Regions from separate parts of the Homo sapiens genome. Here region 1 is linked to region 2. A link means that fine-mapping ties the variant in region 2 to the expression of a gene that starts in the linked region. Tissue or cell type: sun-exposed skin. Region 2 holds a variant in brackets; the other region holds the start of a gene. All regions are shown on one strand. Distances are between the middles of the regions.

Evidence for each region. PIP is the estimated chance that this variant, and not a neighbour inherited with it, causes the effect.
Region 1: LINC03124 starts here. The variant in region 2 is fine-mapped to the expression of LINC03124 in sun-exposed skin (GTEx, PIP above 0.99). The same link has a PIP of 0.9 or more in esophagus muscle, thyroid, tibial nerve and whole blood.

The regions. Positions count from the first base shown.
Region 1 is chr2:131,677,805-131,685,990 of GRCh38, forward strand. It overlaps LINC03124 (long intergenic non-protein coding RNA 3124), which reads left to right and starts at 4,695. Exons shown (of 10, transcript NR_167889.1): 1 at 4,695-5,184; 2 at 6,905-7,015. RefSeq lists an enhancer at 4,128-4,247 and a silencer at 4,618-4,667.
Region 2 is chr2:131,705,716-131,713,875 of GRCh38, forward strand. All of the region lies in intron 5 of LINC03124 (long intergenic non-protein coding RNA 3124), which reads left to right. Among named protein-coding and RNA genes, the nearest start is that of LINC03124, 27 kb to the left of the region's middle. The variant C/A (reference allele first, on the strand shown) is at 3,396.

The DNA.
Region 1 (8,186 bases), 28 kb before region 2:
ACCTTACCCTCCTCCCTCCTCTGATCTTTTGTGCCATGTTGTCATAGATTTTTCTTCTGCACATGTTGTAATTCCTGGAGGATGTCATTAAAATAGCAATTTCCCCTCCACATGTTTACTATTTTTGGCACACTTTCATCTTTTCTGAGAACTAGAATTTCCAATTGTTATCATTTTTCTTCAACCTGAGCAGCTTTCTTTTGCATTTATTGTGGTTTGGGTGTGATGGCAACACATTCTCTCAGACTTTCTTTAATTGAAAATGTACTTTTCTCAACTTCAGTTCTGAGGGCGGCTTCAGCAAGTTCAGAATTCTAGGGACACCTTTGACTTTGAACAGCATGAAGTCTCTGCTCAGCAGTGCTGTAGGCACCATCTAACATATTGTTATATCTAGTTGTGTCAAATCTGTCATCGGCCATAGAACGCTTTGACAGGTGCTTCTTGTTGCTTCAGTTCTAAGTATTTCATAGTTTTCAGAGATATGGAGAAGCAGCAGTGCTAGTAACAGTACCAGTAAAACCAGGATAAGCCCTAAAATAATTAAGAAGCCATCGCATGCACACACGTGAACGTTTGACTTCAGCTAAAATGCTTTCAAGTGTACTATTTTATCTTTACACAAGGTTATAATACAAATTAAAGATTTAAAAATATTTTCACTTTATATATGTGAAAACTGCAGCTCAAAGAATTTAAAAGACATGATTGAAATCCCATAACTAGGTAAACATGGTCAAATCTGGAGCCCTCATGTCTCGGTCCCCCCACGCCCTGTTACAGAGAGTGCGAGGCTTCACCAGGAAGCTCTTTCGGCTCAAGGATTAGCTCTGGGGAAGTGCTGCAGGCAGGCCTGCTTTGCATCCTTTTTCCAGCAGAAATCCTATGTTTGTTTCAAGCTTCTAGTTCTTTTTGTTTTGTTTTGTTTCTTACCAGCACGGCTCTGGGAGTTATTTACACAACTTAATTTTAAGAGAGACAGTCCCCATCACTAAGGTTCCTTGGAAACTTATCATGCAAAAAAATAAAAATAATAAATGCTGGTAGATAAGCATACAAACCACTCAGGAGAAAGACAGTGGCCACTCAGGTCATCAGGTGAACTTGTGACGGGGCCATCAAGAGGCTGCACGTGAGCTCCAGAAAATGAAATTCCCACTATCAACCTATTTTCCATTTCCACCCAATGCCCCGCCCCTGCTCCAAATCAAGGTTTCCGCCTCTTAGAAATGCTTGATTTTCAGTATTGCTAAACAGGGGTCAAAGAAAACAAGCTGAACAAAGAAACAAATAAAGCCTTTAACACAGTGAGCAAAGACACAGCACCCACCCCTTCCCTGGGCCCCGCAACAGCTCCAGAGCTGCGCAGCTGCTCCCAGAGCCTGAGCATGGACCTGAGCTCTGGCCCATGGAGCTCACCAATGCATTTCTTCCCTCTGTGTCAAAAAAGCATCAAGAAATTGGATTCATTTACCTGGGACATAAAATAAGGTATACCTATAGTTTTGTCCCAGAACTGTGTAAACCGGCATGCTGCCTGCCACAGTACAGTCCTCCCCCTGCATCAGGAGCTCAGATGGGGGAAGCCAGCAGGGCTGGAGGCCTGGGAGTCACAGATGCTTGGAGGGGAGAGAAAAGCACCACAGAGAGCCAGGCAGGACCTGCCTACAAGTCACATTTTTAGGGGTCTAGTGGTCTGGGCAGGCTGGGAGATGCTCTCTAAAGGGAAGGCAAGAAATATTGCCCCACATCTCCCACCACCAAACAGAAAGTGCAGGTGGTCAGCCCCAGGGCTCACCTGCCCTTTGCCAGGGTCATGAGCTAGGCCCAGCCTGCACCCTCCACACAACCATCAAGGGGACTTCCTGTCAGGCTGGGACAACTGCACCGGGCCCTGATGCCCTGGGAAGAACAGGGTTGCATTTAACAGAAACAGCTAAACCTGAAGGGATGAGCTTGCCTTTCCCCAGGGCCATGGGATGGTTTATAGAAAGTTCTACCCATCAGGACGAGACCTCACATGACACCATCAGAGGAATTGATACCATGCCATAGAGGGAGGAAGAGGGCGCATGCCATAGGTCCACTGGTCACAGCACACACATGCTCCTGGGAGCTTCAGACCCAGCAGTTTGGCTCAGGTGCCAGGTCAGGATGTGGGAGGACACAGTGTCTGGGTGAATCTGTCACCCTTGCTAGCTGCCTTGTCCCACCAGGTAGAAGATGCGGCAATGGGAGCACAGCAGTAGGAAGCCCAGTGTCCCCCAACCTTCCACCTCACACCCAGGACCTCTGAGGTGCATCTATATCCTGCACATCTAGGCTCTGAAAAGCAGGAGGTCCTGGTTTCCACAGCTGTGGGGCTTCTAGACAGGACAAGGCCAAATTCTCTGAAAAAACAAGCTCTGGGTGCTGCTTTGTCCTCAGGCTGCTCCTCCATGGGACCTGCGGGCAGAAAAATGTGTACCACCTGGACCGTGGTTTCAGCAGAAGCAGGGTTATGCTGCCTGGGGCAGGAGGGGCTCTACACAAGCGCCTCTCAATACACAGCATTTGATGGTACGTGGACAAGTGTGGGAGCCCTAGACCAAGGACTCCGTGGTGAGCAAGACTCAGGACCCCTTAGGGGTGAGGGCCTGGGTTACACCACCAGGGGGTCACCCGGACCCTCAGCAGAAGGTGGAGGGGGTGGTGATCATTACCTTTGTGACCCTGCAATGGGTGGCAGCCACAGGACATAGGGTTCATTGAACGCACCTTGTGTAACTATTGCCCAGGAAAAGGCCCAGAATTTAATAAAGATGAGGCCCCTGGCAGTGAAGTGCTGGATGAGGCGCACCCCCTGGGGCATACCTGAACCTCCCCCAGGGCCTCGGCTGTGAGCTTTGATTATAGACACACCTGTGCCACAGCCCCTTCAGACTGCTCCCTTCACCTCTGAAAAACCAGACAGGATGCTTCTGTTCCTGGAAATGTGAATGCCCTTCGTGTGTTTTTTACTTTGACTATAAACTCATCTGCAACCAAAATATAGACTCCCACACAATAATAACGGGAGACTTTAACACCCTAATGTCAACATTAGACAGATCAACGAGACAGAAAGTTAACAAGGATATCCAGGAATTGAACTCAGCTCTGCACCAAGCAGACCTAATAGACATCTACAGAACTCTCCACCCCAAATCAACAGAATCTACATTCTTCTTAGCACCGCACAGCACTTATTCCAAAATTGACCACACAGTTGGAAGTAAAGCACTCCTCAGCAAATGTAAAAGAACAGAAATTATAACAAACTGTCTCTCAGACCACAGTGCAATCAAACTAGAACTCAGGATTAAGAAACTCACTCAAAACCACTCAACTACATGGAAACTGAACAACCTGCTCCTGAATGACTACTGGGTATATAACAAAATGAAGGCAGAAATAAAGATGTTCTTAGAAACCAATGAGAACAAAGACACAACATACCAGAATCTCTGAGACACATTTAAAGCAGTGTGTAGAGGGAAATTTATAGCACTAAATGCCCACAAGAGAAAGCAGGAAAGATCTAAAATTGACACCCTAACATCATAATGAAAAGAACTAGAGAAGCAACAGCAAACACATTCAAAAGCTAGCAGAAGGCAAGAAATAAGTAAGATCAGAGCAGAACTGAAGGAAATAGAGACACAAAAAACCCTTCAAAAAAATCAATGAATCCAGGAGCTGGTTTTTTGAAAAGATCAACAAAATTGATAGACCGCTAGCAAGACTCATAAAGAAGAAAAGAGAGAAGAATCAAATAGACGCAATAAAAAATGATAAAGGGGATATCACCACTGATCCCACAGAAATACAAGCTACCATCAGAGAATACTACAAACACCTCTACACAAGTACACTAGAAAATCTAGAAGGAAATGGATAAATTCCTGGACACATACACCCTCCCAAGACTAAACCAGGAAGAAGCTGAATCTCTGAATAGACCAATAACAGGCTCTGAAATTGAGGAAATAATTAATAGCCTCTCCCTGGGAATGGGCGGGCCTGGGTCCAGTCCACAGGGCCCCTCGTGGGCCCTGATGAAGGAAAGAGTTGAGATGGGGGCAGCGCTGGACCCCAGGGCCCCTGCCTGCCTCCTGGAGAGCCCGGTGACCCAGGCAGCCCTGGTGAGGCTGTGGGTGCCTGGGCCATAGCGAGGCCCGCGAGCTCCCACAGGACAGATGCGGACAGTGAGGCCGGGGAGGCCCTGCTGCCCTCCGAACTGTCCCTCCAGCCCCCAGCTTTCTGTGGTTCTCTGGGCCCCCTCTGCAGAGGGGCAGGGGAGCCCACCCTGGATCCTGAGACGCCAAGCTTGAGGGACCCCCAGAGCTCTAGCGAGGCTGCTTCCTTTGCGGATGGTGAAGCTGAGGTCCAGAGGAGGGCAGGGGCAGGTCCTGGGCGCTCCCTAGGCAAAGGGAGCCGATCTCCGGGAGGCGGTCACAGGGAGCGCTCCTGCGACTTCTAGGGCCCGAAAGCTGGGGAGGATGAGAGACCAGGGGCCTTTCGTCGTCCCCTGGGCTGGGCAGAGGCTCAGCCTGTGCCGCAACCCTAAGCGGCTTCTGGCAAGTCCGAGCCGCGGTCCCTTTAAGAGGGGGTGGAGCTTCAACCTGGCACTAGGGATGCTGCTAGCGTGCGTGTCCCTACGGAGCTGAGACTGCAGTTCCTGCGACGCCCCTGCAGCAGCAGCAGCGTGGTCAGAGCGAGCTTCTGAGCGGTGGTGGGTTCCATGTGATGGTGGAGTAGGAGACAGGTCTCCGCGGTCAGTGGCGGGGGCGTGGACCCCACCGGGAACCCTCCCTGCTCCTTCCCTGCCTCTCCCTGTTTTCGTGCCCGCACTTCTTCGTGGGCATCTGGGCCCGAGTCCTCCGCTTGGGGGCGGTTGTGCGGTCCTGGCTACTGCAGCGTCCGCACCCCGGCCGGGAAGGCTATGCCAATGTCCGACCCGCGTCCAGCGTATAGGAGCGCCCTGGCCCACAGCTGGCGGTAAAACGCGGGACCTGGGTCCCTCGGAGCCCCAGGGGCCTCTGAGCTGGAGTCTAGGATTATTTTTGATGCCTCAGCACCTTTAAAAAGAGACCTCGCTAGAGCAGGGGGCATCTGTATTTTCAGTTCTTTGAGGAGTCTCCAGCTATTTAGCTGTTTTCCATGGTGTGTATCCTAATTTTCATTTCCACCTACAGTGTATGAGTTTCCCTTTCTCCAAAACCACACCCGCATTCCTACTATTTTTGGTTTGGGGTTTGTTTTGTTTTTGTTTTTGTTTTGAGACGGAGTCTTGCTCTGTCTTACAGGCTGGAGTGCAGTGGCGCCATCTCGGCCGACTGCAACCGCTGCCTGGTTTTAAGCAAGTCTCCTGTCTCAGCCTCCAGAGTAGCTGGGACTACAGGCGCCGCCACCATGCCCAGCTCATTTTTGTATTTTTAGTAGAGATGGGGTTTCACGATATTGGTCAGGCTGGTCTCAAACTCCTGACCTCAGGTGACCCACCTGCCTCAGCCTCGCAAAGTGCAGAGATTACAGGCATGAGACACCGTTCCCAGCCCCTCCTATTTTTTTAAAAAAATCAAGGAATATTCGATAAGTGTGAGATTATCTGTGTGTGGTTTTGAATTACAGTTTTCTAATGAATAGTTGATTTTGAGGACCTTATCTCTTATTTGTTGTTCGATTTTATGGCTGTGCAGAATTGTCTGTTCAGGTTCTTTGCAAAATATTAGATTGGATGCTTTTGCTACTTTGTAGTGTTTTTTGTGTACATATTAGATGACAACTCCTCGTGAATTACAAGATTGCCTGAAATTTTTGCCTAATCTATAGGATGCTTTTTTAATTGGAAAGTAGTTTTCTTTGATGTGCAGAAACTTTTCATGTTGATGTAGTCAACATGATATTTATTTTTGCGTTTCATGCATGTAATTTTCGTCACCCATATAAGAAAATAATATGTCAGTGACAAAGCATTTAATTGTCAATGAGGTTTTTCTTCCAGGGTGTTTATTTTCCTCTTTGCAAAGGTGAGCAGAGATTCAAGTGACCCAAAATATATGCTCATCCTGTGTTTTAGTTAAAAACATTTTGTAGTTTATGGTCTTTTGTTTTGCCTTCAATTTGGGGGAGTGGGTGTTCATTTTCATACATCGTGTAAAATAAGGTCCTATTTCTCGCTTCTGCATCTGGATATCATTTTTGTCAAAGGTATTCATTCTCTGCCTTCCACATTGCAGTGTTCTTTATCAAAGTCAGTTGATTGTGTCCATATTTGTGTTGATCATGTTTTTGTCCTCCCTGTTTTTGTCCATAGTTTATGCAAGTATCATATATCAGCTGTATAACTACAACTTGGCAGTGTAATTTGATATTAAGGATTGTGGGTCTTCACTTTGTATTTCTCAGGATTCCTTTAGATATTCATTGCTTTTGTGGTTCCCTGTGATTTTTAGCAATACGTATTTATTTCTGTTAACTTTTTTTCACAACATAAAGGTCCATAATTAGGGGTACATTTTCATACATACAGATTGGGTAATGATCAAATCAGGGTACTTAGGATCTCTATTTGCTCATCCAGGTTTTTTTTTTTTTTGTGGGGAGAACATTCAAAATTCTCCCTTCTTACTCTAGAAAAATATGATATTGTTAACTCCAGTCACCAGGCTGAGGAGGAGAACCTCAGATTTGTTCCTTTAATGTTAAGATAACTTTGTTTCCATAATCAATCCTTCCCCATTCCCCCTCTATCTCCCAAACTCTGGTAACCAATATTGTGCTTTTTACTTCATTAAGATAAACATCTTAAGATTTCACATGAGTGGTATCATGCAGTGTTTTTCTAGGCCTAGCTCCTTACATTTAACATAATGTTTTCCAGGTTCATCTGCGTTGCTCTAAATGGGACTGTTTCATTATTTTGATGGCTGAAGAATATTTCCTAGTGTATGTATATGAGAGTTTCTTGATCTCTTTATCTGTGGATGAACAGGTAGGTTGAATTTACACCCAGTAATGGGACTGCTAGATGGAATGGTATTTCTTTTTTTCCTATTCTTTGCAAGACCTCTAACTGTTTTTTATAGTGTTAATACTAATTTATGTTTGCACAAACAGTTCCCCTTTCTGGCAATTCATACCAGGAATTGTCTTTTTAAATATTTTGATCTTTTTGTAATGTTCATTCTATTGGAGTGAGATAAGATCTGAGTGTGGTTTTGATCTGCATTTTTCTCATGAGTAGTAATGTTAACCACGTTTTTGTAGACATTCGGTCAGTTTCCTGTCTTCTTTGGAAAAATATCTAATCCGGTTATTTGCCCAGTTTTTGTCTGGCAATTGTTCTGTTGTTTTGTTATTTTTTTGCCAGCTGGTAGTATGACTGGCTTGTACCTTTTCAAAAATAATCCCTTATCCCAAACTTGTAATTTTTAGTGTGCCTTTTTATTTTGTTTATTGTTTCCTTTGTTGGTCACAAATGCTTCAGCTTGACGTGGTCCCACATGTGCATAATTTCTTGGTGGCTGTGCTGTTGGTTACTAATCAAGAAAAAACAAAATCACTACCAAAGCAGTCCCTTGTCAATAATTTTTTTCCCTTGTATTTTTGTTTACTTTTTGTGAACCCTGAGCATACATCCAAGTTGCTCTAAATATACGCACACCCGAGGTTGTCTTTATAGGAGCTTTATGGTTGCAAGTTTTGTGTATAATCTTTAATCATTTTGAGTTGATTATTGTGTATCTAGTACCATAAGGGTCCTGTATTACCCTTTTGCATATGGATATCTAGTTTCGGAAGTCTTCCCTGTTGTGTCATTTTGGTGGTGTTTTGAAAAATGTGTTCATTCCATATAAATTTTTGTTTATTATTGAGCACATTCATTTTGCTCACTGGTCTGTGTTTCTCTGTCTATGCCAGTAACATATGGGTTTGTTAACTACGGATTTTCATTTAATTAGAACTCAGGGAATGTGATGCATCCCGTATGGTTTGTATTTCTCAGAATAGCTTTGGAAATTCAGGGTGTTTCACATTTCCACATAAATTTTGGCATTGTTTCTTTATACTTCCTAAAACACTATTTGTCATATACTAAATGTATACAATTAGAAGGTACAAGGAAGGTTTTCATACATGTATATGTTGAATAATGATAAAAT
Region 2 (8,160 bases):
CAGACCCACTTCTTCCAGCTGCTTCAGTGTAGGGAAGTAGTTGGCAGGCTTACTGTGAAGCTCCTCCCAGACTTTAGCCAACTTCAATCTCAAGCCACAGGCAGAGAGTCTTCTTGGTGTAGTTATAGTCCTTTCCTGCCCTGTTTTATGTTGGTTAGCTCCAGCTTGAGTTCCTCTCTTGGAGCCTTTACTAAAAGTAGCAAGAAGCAAGCATCTTATACCAGACACTTGAAATGTTTTCCTCCATGTTCTTTGGAGTTAGAGGTTCAGATGCCATGTGCTCTACCTTCCATGACATCATAGATGGTGGTTTTAACAAACATTTGTCCATGGCCTAGCAAAACTCACCAGCTTTATCACTGTCACATGCTGCGGAATTCTGAGTAAATGCCATGTATTTCAGATTATCTTCTGTTCAGCTCCTCTTCCAGGTACAAAGTTTTGTGTTAGTTAAGATGCAGGTTTGGTGGCTGTGATAGAAGTTCAAAATAAGAGTGGCTTAGACAAGAAAAGAGACTATTTCCCAGTCACATAATAGAACAAGTTGTTAAGGTGGCATAGCTTTACAGGGAGGTCAGTGCTTGGGTATCTTCTATTTTTCTTTTATCCAGTCACTATGGCATGGCCTTTGTGGCCCAAAAGAGCTCATCACCACATCTGCATGTTAGCTAGGGAAAAGGGGAAAATACTCCCTTCACTGACACACAGCAGTCACCAAAGCTGGTCACGTGGCTATTGAGAAGGTGCAAGGGCAGCTGGGAAAACTGCAGTGCATTCTGGGTATTGGTGAGAAGGCAGCCACTCTCATCTACTCTGATATTGAGAATTACATGTGATTGCTTTTAATTTTCATGTTAAACTTATTATGTGAGTTGGAACATTAAAGAAAAAATACACAAACAAATAAACTAGAGAATATTTTCCACTCCATTCATGTGACCGCCAGTCTTTGATGGAGTTGGAGCCTGACAGAGATGAGAGGCAGAGCTCACAGGATAGAAAGATTTGAATTTGACTTTACTTTTAAATGCTTTCTTAATAACTGAGTCCAAAAGTTAAGTTAAAAAAAAAAACTTGTTTAATTCTTCCCTCTGTCTCTAGGTAGCCCTGCATTGACATTATCATGAATACATTCCATTTAAAAACCTCCTTGAAAAGACAGTTCACTAATTGCCTCTATTAATGTTTCTCAGTTTTCTAGCCAAAACAAATATCTCAAGTTGTGCATTTCCTTTACGTAACAGTGTGCAGTTGTGATAAACAAATTATACATGGAACTGACATGATCCTACAACATAAACTCTTTGAGAACTGAGGCTGTGCATTTTTTAGATTAGTAGATACTTTGCAATTTTTTTAATGGAGTCTCACTCTTCTGCCCAGGCTGGAGTGCAGTGGCATCATCTCAGCTCACTGCAACCTCTGCCTCCTGGGTTCAAGTGATTCTCCTGCCTCAGTCTCTCGAGTACCTGGGATTACAGGCATGCGCTACCACGCCCGAATACTTTTTGTATTTTTAGTAGAGACGGGGTTTCACCATGTTGGTGAGGCTGGTCTCGAAATCCTGACCTCAAGTGATCTGCCTGCCTCAGTCTCCCTAAGTGGTGGGATTACAGGCATGAACCACCTCGCCTGGCAATCTTCTTTCAACTTAATCAGCCCTTATACACTCAAAGAGTTACTTGGATGCATGCTTTCTCATTATCTATTTTTGTCATTGCATATATCTGAGGAAGGATAATGAGACTCTACCATCAGTAGAAGGATGGTTGGATTATCAAGTGCAACACCTTATAGCCTATCTTGACTTTTCTCCCAAACTTCCTGGAAGAAAAGATGGGATTTTCTGACTCTTTTTAACTTCCTAGGACTAGAGAGCCAGGAAGACAGAAAAAAGGGGCAAAAGGGGCCTTACTTTTAACTTGGTACAAAGTTTATAATGGGAACATAATAGTTCCAGAAAGCAGAATAGAAGAATCTTATTAAAGAAACCAAGACAGGGAGCTTCATTAACATTCTGCTCTTGAACTCATGCTTTTATTATATACTTATGTGTAGGGCTATTCTGAGGACCTACTATTCATTTTTTCAAATAATTCATATTTTAATGTATTTACGTAGGTAATTTACATGACATTATTTTTAGAAATCATGACCTATTTCAACCTGTCATTGTTATCTATGGCTTAATTTCTGTGAAAAGCAATGAAGTCTGTCTGCAATATAGCTATGATGATCTCTAATTTTGTAGTTCTCTAATTTGTTCACACATTTAGAATGACCTTTTATGCCTTTCCAACTATGGCATCTTCTATTATTATATGATTTGGGTTGAAATGTTCACCAATACATAGTGCTTGAAATGCATATTAAAAAAGTATGAACAAGGGAGAATAGAAGTTGATACAGAAGCAGTAATACACAGTGTTCTCAAACAATCCACCTAAGTTGCCATTTCTAGTTTCATGTCTCATAATCCAAAATCCTGGGGAGCTGCCACTGAATCATTTCTTCTCCTAATCATAAATACCTAGACCCAATACACCAGGGAATACCAGGATCTTGAAAAAAATGAAAGAATGGAATAAAAAATCAGCCTCAGGAAAGCAGCCTAAATATATTTGAAGATGACAGATTGGTAGGTAGGTAGGTAGGTAGATAGGTAGATAGATACCTAGATAGATAGATAGATAGATAGATAGATAGATAGATAGATAGATAGATAGATGATAGATATTCCAAGACTATAAAACTATGAACCAATTTTTAAAATCATATAATCTTCTAGTATTATGCTGAGCTGAGATCACCTGCTTATACAAAATTCAAGACACATTCAAAGAGATCTTTCAGTGATAATTTTTTAATCAGAAGGAAAAAGTTTTAGATGCTACTTGAGAAAAGGACAAAGTATAGGTGGAGTTTCTCTTTTTTGCCAGTTGTTATTACTTAATTACACTATCTTTCTGGCCATAAAATGAACAAAAGGATTCATTCACTTGTCTCGTTAGGTATTAAGCATCAGTTGTCGATTCATTCATTTCACACATTTCACTAGTGACACTGAATACTGCAGAGCCTAAGATGAAAGGGGAAGCAATTCACAGGCCGATGAGAAGATGCACGATTGCCATTCAGGTACTGAGGGCTGCAACAGAGGAAGGGTGGTGAGAGCACTAATGAATTCTTGCTATTTTCTGATCATTGTCTCATCCTAATAACAGCTCCCTGGAAAAGGTACTATTAATCCCTAAAGAAACTAAAATTCAGAAAGATTAAATGACTTTCCCAAAATCACAAAACCAATATGCAATAGAGCCATAAATCCAATTCAGGCCTGTCTCATATCACAATTATTTTCTATCTGCTACACCAAGTGGCATCCTTGAGTTTTG[C/A]AAGATGCCCTCAGTGCCAAGGCATGAGTCCTTACCAGGGAAACTTTCTTTCTTTCTTTCTTTTTTTTTTTTTTGATGGAGTCTCACTCTATAGCCCAAGGTGGAGTGCTGTGGTGCAATCTTGGCTCACTGCAACCTCTGCCTACCAGGCTCAAGTAATTCTCCTGCCTCAGCCTCTGGAGCAGCTGGAATTACAGGCATGTGCCACCATACCTGGTGAGTTTTTTGTATTTTAGTAAAGACGGGGTTTCACCATGGTGCCCAGGGCAGTCTTGAACTCCTGAGCTCAGGCAATCCACCCGCCTCAGTCTCCCAAAGTGCTGAGATTCAGAGAAATTTTCATGGAGAGGGGACAGATGGAGTCATTTCTTGTGGGGTGAACATGAGTACCATGGGTAGACTGAGGTTGGGAAAGATTTTCCAGACAATTGGAAGAGCATGTGAAAGACACAGATTTTGAGAAATGTCAAGTCTAGGGAACTGCAAGCCTTTTGGCACAAGAAAGCCACTGTGGACTGTAGAGGCAGGATGCCTAGACTCAAATCCCAATGGCTACACTTCTAAGCTTTGCAATTTTGGCAAGTTTTTACCCTCTTTTTTTATCTATAAAATATAGATTTTATATATATAGATATAGATATATAGATAGATAATAATAGTACCTGCCTAATAAAGTTGTCAAAGATTAAATGTTATATGTGAAGTATTTTGTACAGTGATAGGAACCCAGGAAGGGCTCTATGAATATTATATATTATTATTATTCTAAAGTAGCCAGAATACAATTGTCAAAGGAGATAGTGGCCGGAGATAAGTTTGAATTGAAAGACTGAGGCCAGAACATAAAGTGCCTCCTATATTATATTTTATATAATTGGAACATCATTGAAAGATTTAAGTATTATTTATGTGTGTATGTGTGTTTTATATAATTAATTCTAGTTCATCATTTTAAAATATCTTTCTGGTGTCACTGTGAACAACAGATGAGAAGAAGTGAATCCTGAGTTAAGGAGACCAGCTCTCTGATTACTGCAATAATCCAGGGAGGGTACCATAAGGATTTCAACTGGAAATGAGTCCATCATGATGGAGAGGAAGGACAGGGCTGAAAAATACTTAGGAAGTAGTATCAGTAGGACTTGGTTAAGAGAGAGCAGAGGCAGGCTACAGGGGTTGGAGGTGTCAATCACAGAGATAGGGAAAATGGGAGGAGAAGCAGGCTTTGAAAAAGTGGCTTGTCTTGTAAAATTATGTCCTATTAAAACAGTAAAAGAAATTAATATATTCAATCCCAAAATACAGGTACAATTCTTTTTGAAAGAGTTACCCAGATAATCTTGCTTGAAGTTTTCAGTTAAAGAAATTTCTTGTTAACAAGTAATGTAGTCATAGAAGAAAACACTTAAAACTTTATTGAATAAAGCTAATAAATCATTTAATATAATTTATAGGAAACTGTTACATAACACACACATTCAATACTTTTTGCTAAAGTATAAATTAATGGAAGGAGAGCACACACACGGAGGTTGAATTATGTTTATGACTTTATTAGTCAAGAATACAAAATTGAGTAGCTACATCAAGCAGAAGCACACAAAGCAGAAGCTTTACAATCCAGCACAGAATCCCTTGACTTCCAAATTCCCGAAACAGACATATAAATACAGATGACATTGTCAGAACAAAATAGGGTCTCACCAGACCTATAATGTTCTTTTCTTGATATGCACATGAATTGCATACGGTCATATGGTGCCAATTACCATTATTTCCTCTGGGCTTAGCTATCCATTTAAGGAGAATTTACACCAACACTGTACCTCTACTTGCAAGAATATATGAAAGCATAGTTAACTTCTGGCTTAGGACCCCAACTCAGGATCAACAAAGCAGTCCTCTTGGGGGAAGCCCATTTCGCTACAATTTAAAGTCATTATAAGCATTAAATAAAAGCTAAGTACTTGTAATCAAGTGTGTTATAATGCAGTTAGGGAATTGGATTTCAGGTGTTTATTTTTAACAGAAATCCATTAATTCTGACACCTAAGGCAAATGCTAGTCAACATGAATGGAGAAACTTTTGATTAGTGGTATATGTTTTCAGATTTCTGGAACATTCATAGACGCTTCAATGTCTTATGTACTGAAATTTTTTAAACCATTGTTTTCTCTAGAAACTAATGAAACTCATCATAAACTCATTTTTCAATATTAAAACATAGTCATAAGTAGAATATTAATCTTATATTAATTAAGATGTTAACATATGTGAAATTTAATACTTCCTGAAAGGAAATGTCTAAAAGAAACTGTTTTAATTCTTCAACCACAAGGACTACACGGGGCAGTTTCAGCACCAGGGATAGTTTTCTTCCTGGATAACAGCGAATGCTCTAATACTGATGAGTAAATCCTGTGTGTCTAACTTCAAATTAATTGTTAGGTTTATATGAATGAGTATAACATGATAGTTAGGAGCATAGGCACAAAGGAAACATTCAGATTTGGTGTTGTTGTCCTTGCTATTATTCTTGTTGTATGTGAGGCTGTTATGATAAAAGATACTGATTTAGGTCAAATACACATATTACTTGTGGAAAATTAATAACTCTAATTAAATATTTCTTGTTTCATACACATTAATTTTAAATACAGCCCAACAATGGACCACTATTTCTCAATACAAGAAAGTAATACATAAAAATCATGAAGTTCTTCAATCAAACTTAAATAATGCTTATTGCAAACATAAAACATAAAAAACAACACATTTTTAAAGAAATATTATCTTTCCAAACATAGCCATATAATTCCTCTGTATTAGAATTTTTCACAGGAATTCTAACTAGTATATTTTTGTACATGCTTTAAAGAATAAAAAAATTTGAACTGTTGACCAAATGTGATATATTATATACTATTGTGTGTATTTTAAAGTGAGGGTAAAAAAAGACACCAAAGCCTCTGGGAAGTTAAACTATAAATTAACTTACAGAATTAATTAATTAGGAAGTTAAACTATAATTAACTTACAGAAGTTACCAAGAGGTGTTAATGCCTACCCTAGGAATGACTATAAATCTATTAGTTAGAATTTTCATATATCTCAATTTTTAATATGTAATTGTTTTGAAAAATTTGGCCAATTTGAAAAAACCATTAATATGTAAATAAATATATCTATATTAATACATATTCTTTATTAATTCTTTATTAGATACTAATCTGGGTTCTGCACAATTTTGTATCTGGGCATTTATTTGTTTTATATGCCAGTAACAAATATAAAACTTTTTGAAGCCACCAATATATTTTTAATGGATGGAGCCATCTCTATGCTGATATATCACAGTTACTACACCAATTTATAGTTAAGAGATATCTGAATGTGATGTTGGACCTAGGAAACTAGTACTTGTAAACCCAATCACCAGGAATGCATGGTTGAATGGCCAAAATTCAGGAAACGTACAGGTGGATAAACCAATGATCCATTAACCTAACAGTATAATGGTTCCCAGGAACCAAGGGGAACAAAATTGGTTGGAGAAGAAATATACGATACTTGCAGAAAAAAAAAAAAACAACTTGCTGCTAAGGCCAGGTTCCTTACTGGCATGCCAACCCTCCATCCTGGGGGTAGCCAGTCCTGAGTGAGCCTGGCCTGAGGTTCGCTGGTAATCACTACACATGTCTAGCTAGTGGCATTCCTTGGTCAGATTTGAATGTAGAGATAGAAAGCAAACAAACAGTTACCTAAAGACAGTAATTCTCTGCCATCCACAGGAGGGTTTTGCCTAGCATTCACATGCATGTTGCTACAGTACAATTGATTCATTAATTAACTTTAGCCAGTTACTTAGTAAACTCAGGTCAACAAGAGAGGAGGCAATGCTTTCTTTCCTAGCTGAAACCATACATACTGAGGATCTAATAATGAGTGCATACATCAACGACTGAGTTTTTTTACTTTCAAAATATTTTGTGGTATCATGAAAACATGGTGTAAATCCCAAGGGAAATTTGTCTAGAGATTTGACAAAGCTTTATCTTGCTGTCCAATTAGAAAATGGATGACTGGAAAGGTTCTTCTAAAAACTGTCTAAGATATTTATTGCCAGAATTTTCTTGAGGAGAAACTGTTGGTCCAGTTCCACCTACATTCCCTTACCTCGATCATGTAATCCTGAGCACCTGCTCCTCAAGAGTCAATGCTTTCCTTCAAAGGATCCTTATACATACACTGGAGCTGACACACAAAAGTGCCTTGCTGCATTTTTGAAGATCTCAAATTTGGCCTCTCGTTTACATTATCCTTCATTTTGTTCATCACATTTCCAGTTTCCTGACTGTTTACCAAACTTTATATTGCCTTCCTATTCCATTCTTGAGGATCCATGGTCACTGCAACTGTCTTTTCAGGTTTGCCCCAACTGTGGCTTGTGTGACCAGTTTTGATTCCTTGCCATTTGATTCCTGACCACTAGCTCTGGGCATGGAACCTGCCTAGCTCCAATTTTTTTTTTTTTTTTTGAGAGGGAGTCTTGCTCTGTTGTCCAGGCTGGAGTGCAGTGGCCACTGCAACCTCTGCCTCCCAGGTTTAAGCGATTCGCCTGCCTCAGCCTCCCGAGTAGCTGGGATTGCAGGCATGCGCCACCACACCTGGCTTATTTTTGTATTTTTAGTAGAGACGGGATTTCCCCATGTTGGCCAGGCTGGTCTCAAACTTCCTACCTCAGGTGATCCGCCCGCCTCGGCC